Linked DNA regions of Homo sapiens: all the other regions are linked to region 1. The links come from fine-mapping of genetic effects on gene expression. A gene starts in region 1. Each other region holds a variant in brackets. All regions are shown on one strand. Distances are from middle to middle.

The links. PIP is the estimated chance that this variant, and not a neighbour inherited with it, causes the effect.
Region 2: its variant is the best candidate, but not a certain one, in a credible set for the expression of B4GALT4 in monocytes (BLUEPRINT, PIP 0.59).
Region 3: its variant is the best candidate, but not a certain one, in a credible set for the expression of B4GALT4 in T cells (TOPMed, PIP 0.84).

What each region holds. Positions count from the first base shown.
Region 1 is chr3:119,238,526-119,242,662 of GRCh38, forward strand. B4GALT4 (beta-1,4-galactosyltransferase 4) reads right to left here and starts at 2,353. Exons shown (of 8, transcript NM_003778.4): 1 at 2,325-2,353. The region is part of intron 3 of B4GALT4-AS1 (B4GALT4 antisense RNA 1); the gene reads left to right. RefSeq lists silencers at 2,040-2,519, 3,170-3,219.
Region 2 is chr3:119,200,378-119,204,514 of GRCh38, forward strand. UPK1B (uroplakin 1B) reads left to right here. Exons shown (of 8, transcript NM_006952.4): 8 at 3,540-4,137. The coding sequence ends at 3,590. Among named protein-coding and RNA genes, the nearest start is that of B4GALT4-AS1, 24 kb to the right of the region's middle. The variant G/T (reference allele first, on the strand shown) is at 2,353.
Region 3 is chr3:119,207,276-119,211,412 of GRCh38, forward strand. No RefSeq gene overlaps it. Among named protein-coding and RNA genes, the nearest start is that of B4GALT4-AS1, 17 kb to the right of the region's middle. RefSeq lists an enhancer at 1-123. The variant T/C (reference allele first, on the strand shown) is at 2,603.

The sequences.
Region 1 (4,137 bases):
TTCAGTTAACCACAAAAAAATACGGTAAGATATTTTGAGAAAGAGATGACATTCATATCTTTTATCACAGCATATTGTAACTGTTCTATTATTAGATATTATTCATCTCTTACTGTGCCTAACTTATAAGTTATACTTTAGTATAGATATGTATGCATATATAGAAAAAAACAGCGTATATAGGGTTTGGCACTATCCACGGTTTCAGGCATCCACTGTCAGTCTTGCAACATATCCCCCAAGAATAAGGAGGACGACTGTACATTAAAATTTAAAGATAACATCACAGACAGGAATTATAACTTTTAGTTACATAAGTTTGACAATTCATTCATATAACCTTTAAGAAAACCTGTTCTAAATAGGCCAAAAAGCCCCAATCTCAAAGAAAAACTTCAGAGGCTGTTAGTAATCTTCAGTGCCAGAGAACACTGTGGTCTGTGTTTGAAATGCCTATTCCCAGGCTCCAGCCCCAGAGATTTTTATTTCAAAGGCCTGAAGTGGAGTCAAGAAATTGATATTTTTGCCTGGGCCCATGGTACACATCTGTAATCCCAGCACTTTGGGAGGCAAATGGATCACTTGGGGTCAGGAGTTCCAGACCAGCCTGGACAACATGGTGAAACCCCATCACTACTAAAAATACAAAAATTAGCCGGGAGTAGTGGCCTGGGCCTGTAGTCCCAGCTACTCGGGAGGCTGAGGTAGGAGAATTGCTTGAACCTGAGAGGTGTAGGTTGCAGTGAGCCAAGATTGTGCCACTGCACTCCAGCCTGGGCCACAGAGCCAGATTCCATCTCAAAAAAAAAAAAAAAAATTATATTTTTATCGAGAACCTAGGTAACTCTGAGTCACACAGCCAGGTTTTAGAAACCACTGTTCACTGATGGCTTAAAACAAAGAATAGAAAACCATCACTGATTTGCTTTGGATGTTTCCACTGAATAAAAGATCTTCAAAGAGAAGGTTAGTTCCCAAAACATTTGCATGCATCTCTGGAAAAGGCAGGCATTACTATTAGCTCGGCTTAAAGTAGATACTAAATACTTATTATATTAAGTGGCATATAAACTACAACCACAGAGCTGATTTTATTGCCCTCTCTATCCACTTCCCCTTAGATTATGTAGTCAAACAGTTCAATCCAGGTCAGTACTTTTTCACAACGTATGTTTTCAATCTGATCAAAGCTATAGGTAGACGAAAGTTATTGCAATTTCATGGGGTTTACAATTTCCATAAAGAACAAACCTGCTCTAGAAGACAAAATTCCAAAAACTTCTGAACTATATCCAATCAAGCATTATCTCCTCTCCCAAGAGAGACCTTCCAGCACTCCCCGCCTGGGTCTCGGGAATAGCCCTCCCTTCTGAATCCCAGTTTCTCAATCCGGACCCTGAATCCTATTCATCCTGATCTCTCCTTGATTTTCTTGCATCTTAAAGGTGTTATTTTCCTTTCTTTAAAAATTTAAAAAAAAAAAAAAAAGCCACAACTCGCCTCCACGCTCAGATTACCATTTTCTTTTTCCTCCTTTTCATCACCAAACGGCTGAGGAGGTCTACCAGTACCCTCACCACCGCCACGTCCCCATCCCTCACCCACTCTGGAACACTTTGCAACAGTGTGCACACCCACCCACTGTTGATAACTACTCTCCTAAGGCTACCAACCCATAGGCCTCTCCTCGATGCAGAGTCCTTTGGACTTTGTCTGTTTTTTTTCAAACCAAGAATTAACAGCCCTTATCTAATGGAAGACAGAACATCAAGGGATACAGATCAACAAACACTGGATGGCTGTCTCCGAAGTCTTTTATAATCCAGGTGACCAACCCCTTTGGAGAAAGGTCAAAGGTCGCCGGCCCCTCGCAGGACTGGGGCTGGTGTCAGCTGATCAGTTTCCCCGTTGAAACGCTGGAGAAGGAGGGTTTCCAGGAAGAAGGGGCTTTTTCAGGTTGATGCACCCGGCGGAGAAGTGCTGGGGGCGACCCCGGAATCGTGACCTGGGGTATGAATGAGCCCTGGATTTTTTCCTACCCGGCAGCACCTCGTCTGGCTCCCCCGGCCCGCAGCAGAGGCGGCGCCGCGCGGAACGCCAGCACCTGAGCCGGTGCCTCCCGCCAGGCTCGGCCTCCGTAGGCCCCCGGCCCGGCCCACCGCTCCGGCTGAGGCGGGACTGCCCCACGGACGCCGCCACGTCATCCCCACGCCCGCCCCGCTACAGCCCTGGGACTGACCCCGGCCGTCGCCCGGCTACCCTCGCACGGCGCCCGTGTCCAGGGAACTGCATTTCCCGGGCGCCGGCGGAGCCAGCGTACTCACCCCGGAGGCGGCCGCGGCGAGCTAGCACTGCCCGCGGAGAGGGGAGAACGCGGAAAGCAGCTCGGGGACCGCCCCAGCCGCCCGGGAGGCGGCTCTTGAGTACGAGCTCCGCCTCCCGCCTTGGCCGGAGAGGCTGGTCCGCCCGGCTCTGCACGCGCCTGGCGCTCCACCCCCGCCAAATCGACCACACCGGGCGCTGGAAGGAGCACCGGGAGGGAAACGGAGGGTTGACGCCTCGGCCTCTGGGTGGCTTTAAAACCCTGTGCCAATAGTAGACTGGGTGCTGAGCGCTTCCCAAATTCCATCCCCTTAAATACTCACAAAGCAGTAGGAAAGAGATAGGGACCCTTCCATTTTACAGAGTGGGAAACTGAGACTTTAGAGAGGCTAATAAACTTAATCACCCTGCGAGATTTCAGCCCTCTCAACTGCAAAAATGATAATAATAATAATAATATTTTTCCCATGTTGCAGGTCTGAGAATATTAAATGATTTTTTTAAATCCGTATTTCTTCAAAGATATTATTACAGAAAGCAAAGACAATTATATTTACACTAAAGATTTGAGTGAAAAATTATGGTAGGCTCTGTTTAGGCAGTCAGGATAGCTAGATTCTCTAATGCAGTCTCCCACTGCACTCACGGGAAAGTAGTAGATTCTCCAAGAACCACACATCCACTCCACCCAAAAAGGAACAAACCATAGCTAGAGCCAGTGCTGGGCTCATTAAGCTTCATAGCAGGAAATCTGAGGCTATACTGAGGCCGCATAGGCCCAATGTAGGCCCTTGGAAGCTGGAAAAGAGGGCCACCTAGTGGCAGTTGAGGATAGGTCAGTGAAATAGGTCAACACTGCTCCTGAACAAGGTCCAGTGTGAAACTTATTTTTTTGTGTTCCCTTTGTAACATGCTGTAAGGGTGTATAACCACATTTAGTGAAAAAGGACATTACTGGATTTCATCCAGTGGCGTTATACAATCAGTTACTTATACCCACATAGTCCCCAGGTCTTGAGCATATGATGCCTGGAAGCATAATATATACCTTTTGCAAGAATCACTCAGCTTTTCCCCTCCCCCTCCCCCTCTCTGTCTCCCTCCCCATCTCCCTCCCCCCTTTGCACGGTCCTCGTCTCCCCTTTGCATGGTCTCCCTCTGATGCCGAGCCGAGGCTGGACTGTACTGCCGCCATCTCGGCTCACGGCAGCCTCCCTGCCTGATTCCCCTGCCTCAGCCTGCCGAGTGCCTGGGATTGCAGGCGCGCACCGCCACACCTGACTGGTTTTCGTATTTTTTGGTGGAGACGGGGTTTCGCCGAGTTGGCCGGGCTGGTCTCCAGCTCCTGACCGCGAGTGGTCTGCCAGCCTCGGCCTCCCGAGGTGCCGGGATTGCAGACGGAGTCTCGCTCACTCAGTGCTCAATGTTGCCCAGGCTGGAGTGCAGTGGCTTGATCTCGGATCGCTACAACCTCCACCTCCCAGCCGCCTGCCTTGGCCTCCCAAAGTGCCGAGATTGCAGCCTCTGCCCTGCTGCCACGCCGTATAGGAAGTGAGGAGCGTCTCTGCCTGGCCGCCCATCATCTGGGATGTGGGGAGCCCCTCTGCCCAGCCGCCCAGTCTGGAAAGTGAGGAGCGCTTCTTCCCGGCCGCCACCCCGTCTAGGAAGTGAGGAGCGTCTCTGCCTGGCCGCCCATCATCTGGGATGTGGGGAGCGCCTCTGCCCCACCACCCCGTCTGAGAGGTGAAGAATGCCTCTGCCCGGCGGCGACCCGTCTAGGAACTGAGGAGTGTCTCTGCCCCGCCGCCACCCCGT
Region 2 (4,137 bases), 38 kb before region 1:
GTTGCAATTTGGAATCTGAAATTCTGTTAATGAGCTTTTCATACTCTGTTATGTTAAAATATATTACATTGGTTTGTCTTGCACTTTGCATATATCTTTCAGCCATTTATAATTCTATAACATCATAGATTGCTTATTTGGAAAAAATATTAGTTCATTGTGTTATGCAGATCTTCCAAATGTTAACTGATTTATGTATGCAATATCCAGAAAATCACATGTGGCATTGATATTGCCACATGGAAAATACCTTAAGCAATGGAATGCTATCAAGTTCACGGTGACAACTACAAGTTTTCCAAGGTTCTGATTTTTGCTTGAAAGTTCAAATTTATCATTGGCAATGAATATTGTCAGTTGTTTTCCTTGAAGTGACAGACTCACTTTGTAAATTTTCAAGAAAATATCTGCCACATGTCCAAGTCCAAACAACCATAGCGTGTCTGTTCATCATTTTTTAAAGTAAAAGTGGTGTTTCCTTTTAATCATGCAAGTGCTTTTAAGACAACCATATTACACTATGCAACAGACTGTTTTATGAATGAATACTTCCTTTCTGTCATGCAGAATATTTAAAAAGATGTGTACTCAAAGGCCAAAATGTAATAAAATTAGTAGTTCTTACTGCTTCATTGAGGACAATCTCAAGTGAAACTGGCTTTTTAAATTTTTTTTTTTTACTGCAAGTGCGTAGCAGTGAAGACACAATGATCACTAACAAAGTTTAGTGACTCTGCCTTGATTCTTGCTAATACTCCAGGAGTTTTACTTCCCACTGCATTTACACCATCAGTGCAAATATGAAAACAGTGAAAAAGGCAAATAAATTCTCATTGTTATTCAGATAGCCTTACATAATGGACTTCTGAACTGTCCCTCAGGTGTTTACTATGTGTATTAGTCCATTTTCATAGTGCTATGAAGAAATACCCAAAACTGCATAATTTATAAAGCAAAAGAGGTTTAATAGACTTACAGTTCCACATGGCTGGGGAGGACTCACAATCATGGCAGAAGGCGAAGTAGGAGCAAAGGCATGTCTTACATGACGGCAGGCAACACAGCGTGTGCAGGGGAACTGCCCTTTATAAAGCCATCAGATCTCATGAGACTTATTCCCTATCACGAGAACGGCACAGAAAAAAACCCGGTCGCATGATTCAATTATTTCCCATCGAGTCCCTCCCATGACATGTGGGGATTATAGGAGCTACAATTCAAGATGAGATTTGAGTGGGGACACAGCTAAACCATATCACTATGCTTTAAGAAATGCTAGCTTAGGGGGTGATAAACTGAGTGAGGCAGGAAGGAGAGGGAAATCAACTCCTTCAAGGGGTCTTTTATGATCCCTCAACCCAACCTGTTAGGAGCTCTCACAACATCCTGAGCACACCTCTATGATGGAACTTCTCCATGATGATGTATTTGACTGCAAAAAGCTGAGAACTAGCTGTTCTTTGTACCCCCAGTGCCAAGCATAGCATGTAGTAAGGGCTCAAGCATTTGTTGAATGAATGAAAGGTAACAGTGAAGTTTCTATTTGTGCCATATTAGCAGGAACTGTGGGATAATGTTTAAAGGCTTTGAGTATCTTAGAACTCCAAACCAGTTGTAACCCTTGATTTTCCACAAGTATCAAATAAACTCTAGATCTAGTTAATTCCCTCTTGAAATTCAAAAGAGGGAAGGGAAGGGAAGGGAATTAAATGATTAAATGTATTGAGGGCCTGCTATAAACAAGGTACCATGTCAAATATTTTTAATATTAAATCCCCACAACAGTAGCTAAGCAGGTAGCCAGTGTCCTGTCTTACAAGGAGCAGAGAAATTCAGTGGGGCTCTCAAGAATTGTGCTTAATAAGAGCTCTTAAGCATGCCCATTTCACTGTTGCTTGCAAGGGGCTTTTTCTTAGTGATTAACTAGATAAGCTCTGAAGCTGACTGCTTGGGTTTGAATCCCACCTCCACCACCTACTAGTTCTATGACCTTGGGTAAGTTACTTCTCTGTGCCTCCGTTTCTCCATAGGGTTTTGGAAGCATTAACTTCAGTTATATGGGTAACACTTAGAATAGTGAGTGATGCATAATAAGGTATTCTAATAAACATTAGACCCTGTTATTATTTCATTATCTCATTCACTGCTCTAGCTTGGGGTAGGTAGAGATGTTATATTTATTTTATAAATGTAGAAACTGAAGCTCAGGAAATTTAAGTGACTTGGCTAAAGTTACCCAGGAGTAAGTACCAGATCTAAAACAGAGCCCAAATAAACTAAAATAAAACTCAGCCCTTGCCTAAGTCAGATATCTTGAGTTCTGTGGCATTCTTCAGAGGCAGCCATTCCAGG[G/T]CACAAGCATTTTAGGAAAAAATAGAAGTTCCCTGGGAGAAGTTTAATACTAGAAGCAAGGAATGCTTACCCCGAAATGGTACATACTAGAAACAGGAAGGCATTGGAGGATAAGTGGCCTTGATGGCAAAAAGAGTTTAGCACAGACGAGAAGGGCAACCCCAGAAGACAAGGAATCTAGGATGAGAACTGGGATCAGAACGTGGGGAACACAGAAGTTGCTTCTGAGTGGCAGGTAATAAGTGATGCTTTGGAGCAGGATGGATTTGGTGTCACATCTGGCCCAGTGATGTTGCTTATAACGAGATTACTCTTAAAAATCTGATATCTAGGCCAGGCGTGGTGGCTCACGCCTGTAATCCCAGCACTTTGGGAGGCCGAGACGGGCAAATCACGAGGTCAGGAGATCGAGACCATCCTGGCTAACACGGTGAAACCCCGTCTCTACTAAAAATACAAAAATTAGCCGGGCATGGTGGCGCGTGCCTGTAGTCCCAGCTACACAGGAGGCTGAGGCAGGAGAATGGCGTGAACCCGGGAGGCGGAGCTTGCAGTGAGTCAAGATCGCGCCACTGCACTCCAGCCTGGGCGACAGAGCGAAACTCCGTCTCAAAAAAAAAAAAAAAAAAAAAAAAAAAATCTGATATCTAACAAAGACATGGAACCAACCCAAATGCCCATCAGCAATAGACTGGATAAAGAAAATGTGGTCCATGCACACTATGGAATACTATGCAGCCATAAAAAGGAATGAGATCATGTTTTTGCAGGGACATGGATGAAGCTGGAAGTCATCATCCTCAGCAAACTAACACAGGAACAGGAAGCCAGACACTGCATGTTCCCTCTCATAAGTGGGAGTTGAACAATGAGAACACATGGACAAAGGGAGGGGAACAACACACACCAGGGCCTGCTGAGGGGTGAGGAGTGAGGAGAAGGGAACTTAGAGGATGGGTCAACAGGTGCAGCAAACCACCATGGCACACGTACATCTGTGTAACAAACCTGCACGTTCTGTACATGTATCCTGTTTTTGTTTTGGTTTTTTAGAAGAAATAAAAACAAACAAACAAAAAAATCTGTTGTCACCTAAGCCTGAATGAACCTAACATCCACTTTTTCCAAGAATGAGATGTTTCTAAAACAATCCCTTGTTTATTTTTCCTTGTTTTTTTCTATTCCAGTTTTGGGTTCTCCTGGGTACCATGTTCTACTGGAGCAGAATTGAATATTAAGCATAAAGTGTTGCCACCATACCTCCTTCCCCGAGTGACTCTGGATTTGGTGCTGGAACCAGCTCTCTCCTAATATTCCACGTTTGTGCCCCACACTAACGTGTGTGTCTTACATTGCCAAGTCAGATGGTACGGACTTCCTTTAGGATCTCAGGCTTCTGCAGTTCTCATGACTCCTACTTTTCATCCTAGTCTAGCATTCTGCAACATTTATATAGACTGTTGAAAGGAGAATTTGAAAAATGCATAATAACTACTTCCATCCCTGCTTATTTTTAATTTGGGAAAATAAATACATTCGAAGGAACCTGTGTTATCACAGTAACCCAGAGCTGTATTTGGCTAGCAATCTGCCTGTATCTCTCACTATTATCTAAAAGAAACCTTCCAATGCTTCTGTTGATCTCAGTATTGTCAGGGGAACAGAGAAGTTGGGAAAAGATTACTGAAATATACCTTTTGCATTTCTTTCTAGAGTAGCTCCCATATATGGAGATGGGTGATTCTCTTGATGCCACCTTCAGATCCTTTTATTCTCCAGAATAAT
Region 3 (4,137 bases), 31 kb before region 1:
TCTGGCTACCCATAAAAGGAATACTAGTCATGTGAACTTGAAAATCTAACCTCCTCTCAATCTCACACCCCCACCCCAACCAATCTGACAACCTGTGTTGTGGTTGAGGAATTAGAAACTAAGCTGGTTTCTCATTTCTATTGATGGAACAATTTCCTTTCTCCTTCTGGGTCTAGTATTTCCTCTAGTGTCTCTTCCAGATCCTTCTCAGCCTGTATAAGTGAGACTGAATCAAAGAAGAACCCCAAAGAAGGGTAGCTATAGACTACTGAGTTTGCTATTGTATTATAAGGCTCAAGTGGCCAGATCCCGTAAAGGGATCCAGAAACATTGTAGAGAAAGGCAGCCTTGCCGAGAAACAGAGATCCCATACACTTCTCCAACCAACCCTTCCCCCAGCACACGCCCCCACTCCACATTGTTAAGACACAAATAGTCAAATCCTGGAGTTTGGAGAAATGGTACTGTCATGCCCTACTTTCTAGTGGTTTCTACCCTGAGTTCCTCTTGAAAAAGAACTACAGAGCAACAGATGCTGGTGAGGCACTCACAACTAGGCTCAACTATTCTCCTGTTAGACATAAACAATCTCACAGAATACCAGCCTCATAGGGTCACTCTGAGACCATGACAAAACGAGGCAAGCCAAGGCCACTGCATAATTTTGTCTATGCATAGACAAAAACAAGGTCACTGTGCCACCCACAAAAAACCAAACACCTGCTTTCTTGGCTAAAATTAGTGACTGCTATGTCTTCCCAATTACAGCTTTATTCTCTTGCTAGTCTCCCTCCCTACAAATAAAACTTATTGAAATAAACAACCATGGACTTGCCCCTGCTTTCTGATAATATCCAACAGAGCAAACCCTTTCTTGGACCCTCCCCAAATGACCCAACCAAAGCCCAAATGCTGTAATAATTCTAACTTCCTTCTACTGAGTTGCTTCATGGATCCCCCATGGTGTGTTCTCACTCACTGCAACGATTGCAACTAGTCACAATCCCAATTTTTTTCAAAATAGAGCTCTTGAATTTATTCCTCCAACTGAAATTTTGTACCCTTTGATCAACTCTAACCCAATTAATTTATCTGCAATGTGTTCCTGGGGGGTTTTGGCTGAAGAGCATTGACACTCTCCAAGTTAGTCTTCCAATCCTTATTTCCTCTAGGAAATAGGATGTATTTATTCCTTCCTGGTGTAGGTGTATTTATTTATCCATCACCATGAAGTGGTTAAGAACATGAACTCTGGAGTCAAAGTACTTGGCTCCAAATCCCAGCTCTTTGACAAGTCACTTAGCTTCTTGGAGCCTGCTTCAGAAAAACTGGTCTCTCCTCACACAGGACTGGGAGGATTCAGTAAGATACGTACAGTGTGCATCGGTCTATAAGAGATGCCAATCAGGAGGTTATATCAAGGAAACTGATACAGAGCAAGCACTTAGTTTATTATTATGTCCCACCCTTCACCAACCTCTGCTCCAAGCCCCCACATCTCTCTCTCATTCTCTCTCTCTCTCTCTCACACACACACACACACACACACACACTCACACTCCACACATGGGCACACAAGGTTTGATAATTTTATTTAAATCTTAACAATTATCAATGGAACAATGGAGGCTTTACCTGTACAGGTGTACTTCCTAGGGGTGGAACCTCTAAACCACTCCCTTGTGTATACTTTTAGAATGATCAGGCCCTCTCAGCAGGTATAAGATGGTTATGCATATACAAAAAAATCAACGAAGGTAGAAATAGCATAAAATATCGAAGGCACTAAGGATAGAGGGTTTTTTTTTTAAGTTATAGAATGTGATTGGTGAAAAAGAACTTATGAAATGTACCTGAATATGCTTCATCTTGCAGAACATGTTAATGGTTTTTGGTAGGGACTGCATATATGAATAGGATTGGGGAAAGTGAATTTCAAGTCTGGGAGAAAATGTCTTTTATCTCACTCAAGTCCATTCACAGAGCATTTTGGGGCTCCCAGGAAATCTATCCATTGGGGCTTGAGTGGAAGTGATGGGGGTAAGGGCAGAAAAATTACAGATGGAGTTGGGGACAAAGTTCTGAGAGCAGCTGAGAACAGGAATGCACTTTCCAGGGTCCAGACAATACTAACTCTCTGTAGGAATTAAGACAATGACACACATTCAGGAAAATTACCACAAAGAAGTAGAGAAGCCAAGAAGAAGGCAATATGATGTAATGGTCTTGAAAGTCAAAGGGCCCGAGTTTTGCTCAGAATCTGCCATTTGCTGCCTGTGAGACTCCTGGCAAGGCACCCTCCTGGCTGAGACCTCTACTTACTCAACTTACTCAACTGCCCTCTTACCTCAAGAGTCAGAAGCATCGGCCAGGCACATTGGCTCACGCCTGTAGTCCCAGTACTTTGGGAGGAAGAGGCAGGCGGATCACCTGAGGTCAGGAATTCAAGACCAGCCTGGCCAATATGGTGAAACTCCGTCTCTACTAAAAACACAAAAATTAGCCGGGCATGGTGAGGCATGCTTGTAGTCCCAGCTACTTGGGAGGCTGAGGCAGGAGAATCACTTGAACCCAGGAGGTGGAGGTTGCAGTGAGCCGAGAT[T/C]GTGCCACTGCACTCCAGCCTGGGTGACAGAGTGAGACTCTGTCTCAAAAAAAAAAAAAAAAAAAAAAAGAGTAAGCGGCACCAATAAAGTGTGTGTAAAGATATCACAAACTGCAAAGCACTATAGAAATGAATGCCAGTATAGGTGAGGAAAAAAAATCAATGAAAACTTCAAAGTAACACACTCTTTGTGTTAGGTAGTTGTGATATCCAAATAGCCTGCCCCCACATAATCCTTAGCAATTATAGTAGGCATAGCTGTCTCTACAATATTTAAAACAGTAGGCCTCTTTGGCAACTATGAGAAAATGCACAGGGCAGGAACTGGAGGAAGCCAGTTCCTTTGAAGCCAAACCCCCTGCCCAGTGGGGAGGCAAGAGCAGGGAGGGAGGCAGCAGTGAGTGGGCAGGCGGCCTCATGCCCCGTGTCACCAGCCTTTGATGCCCCAGTGCAGGGAAAGTGTCACAATGGCAGTGTCAAGGTCTTAAAAAACTATCTTCCACCTCAAGAAGTTCCATAACAAGTCATTTAAGGGACTTTTAGATTATCTTGGTTGAAAGAATTACCTGAAGAAAAATAAAAGGCATCATTCAGTGGTTTCCAACAGTTAAAAAATTGCAGATGTCAAAAAAACACAAGAGAGTTTCTGCATGGTACTAGCTATACTCCATTTCCATTGAGTAAGAAATTGAGTTCTCAAATACAGATCTTCAAATTCCTTGCACACACCATTCTCTTCCATTGCCCTTCCCAACCATGATGAGGGAGGGACCTACAACCTCTCAATTACCGTCTGTTAATATGGTCATAGTCAAGCAAATTGGGAGAGAGCTCTAGACAAAGTTTCTACAGAAAAGAGAAGGGACAGTGAGGGAGAGATTTACTCAACAGACTACAGCCTCATTAGCAAATCTCCCAAGAATGAAGCTCCTTTACAAAGTTTGAGCAAAAAACATGAAAACCCTGAGTATTTCTCTGCTAAGTAAAGAAAAAAACATGGCCGGGCACTGTGGCTCACACCTATAATTCCAGCGCTTTGGGCACCCCAGGCAGGCAGATTGATTTTGAGCTCTAGAGTTCAAGACCAGCCTGGGCAACATGGTGAGACCCCATCTCTACTAAAAATACAAAAAAATAGCTGGGAATGGTGGTGTGCGCCTGTGGTCCCAGCTATTCAGGAGGCTGACGGGGGGAGGATTGTCACTTGAGCCTGGGGGGTGGAGGCTGCAGTTAGCCGAGACTGCACCTCCGCACTCCAGCCTGGGTGATAGAGCAAGACCCTGTCGCAAAAAGAAAAAAAAAAAAAAAAAGGAAAAGAAAAATAACCACTTTTGCTCTTTTGCTCCCTGTGCTGAGTTAAAAGCTAAACCAAGCTAGCCCTAGGTAAACGTTTCATGCCTATGAAGTGTATTGTCCTTTCAAATTCTCCTTCCCCACTTGGGTGGTGACAACTCCTGTTTTATCTTAGGAGCACCAAACTTCCTACTCCCTCTCTCCCTGCTTGGGAAGGATTAGATATTATTTAAACTTCCTGG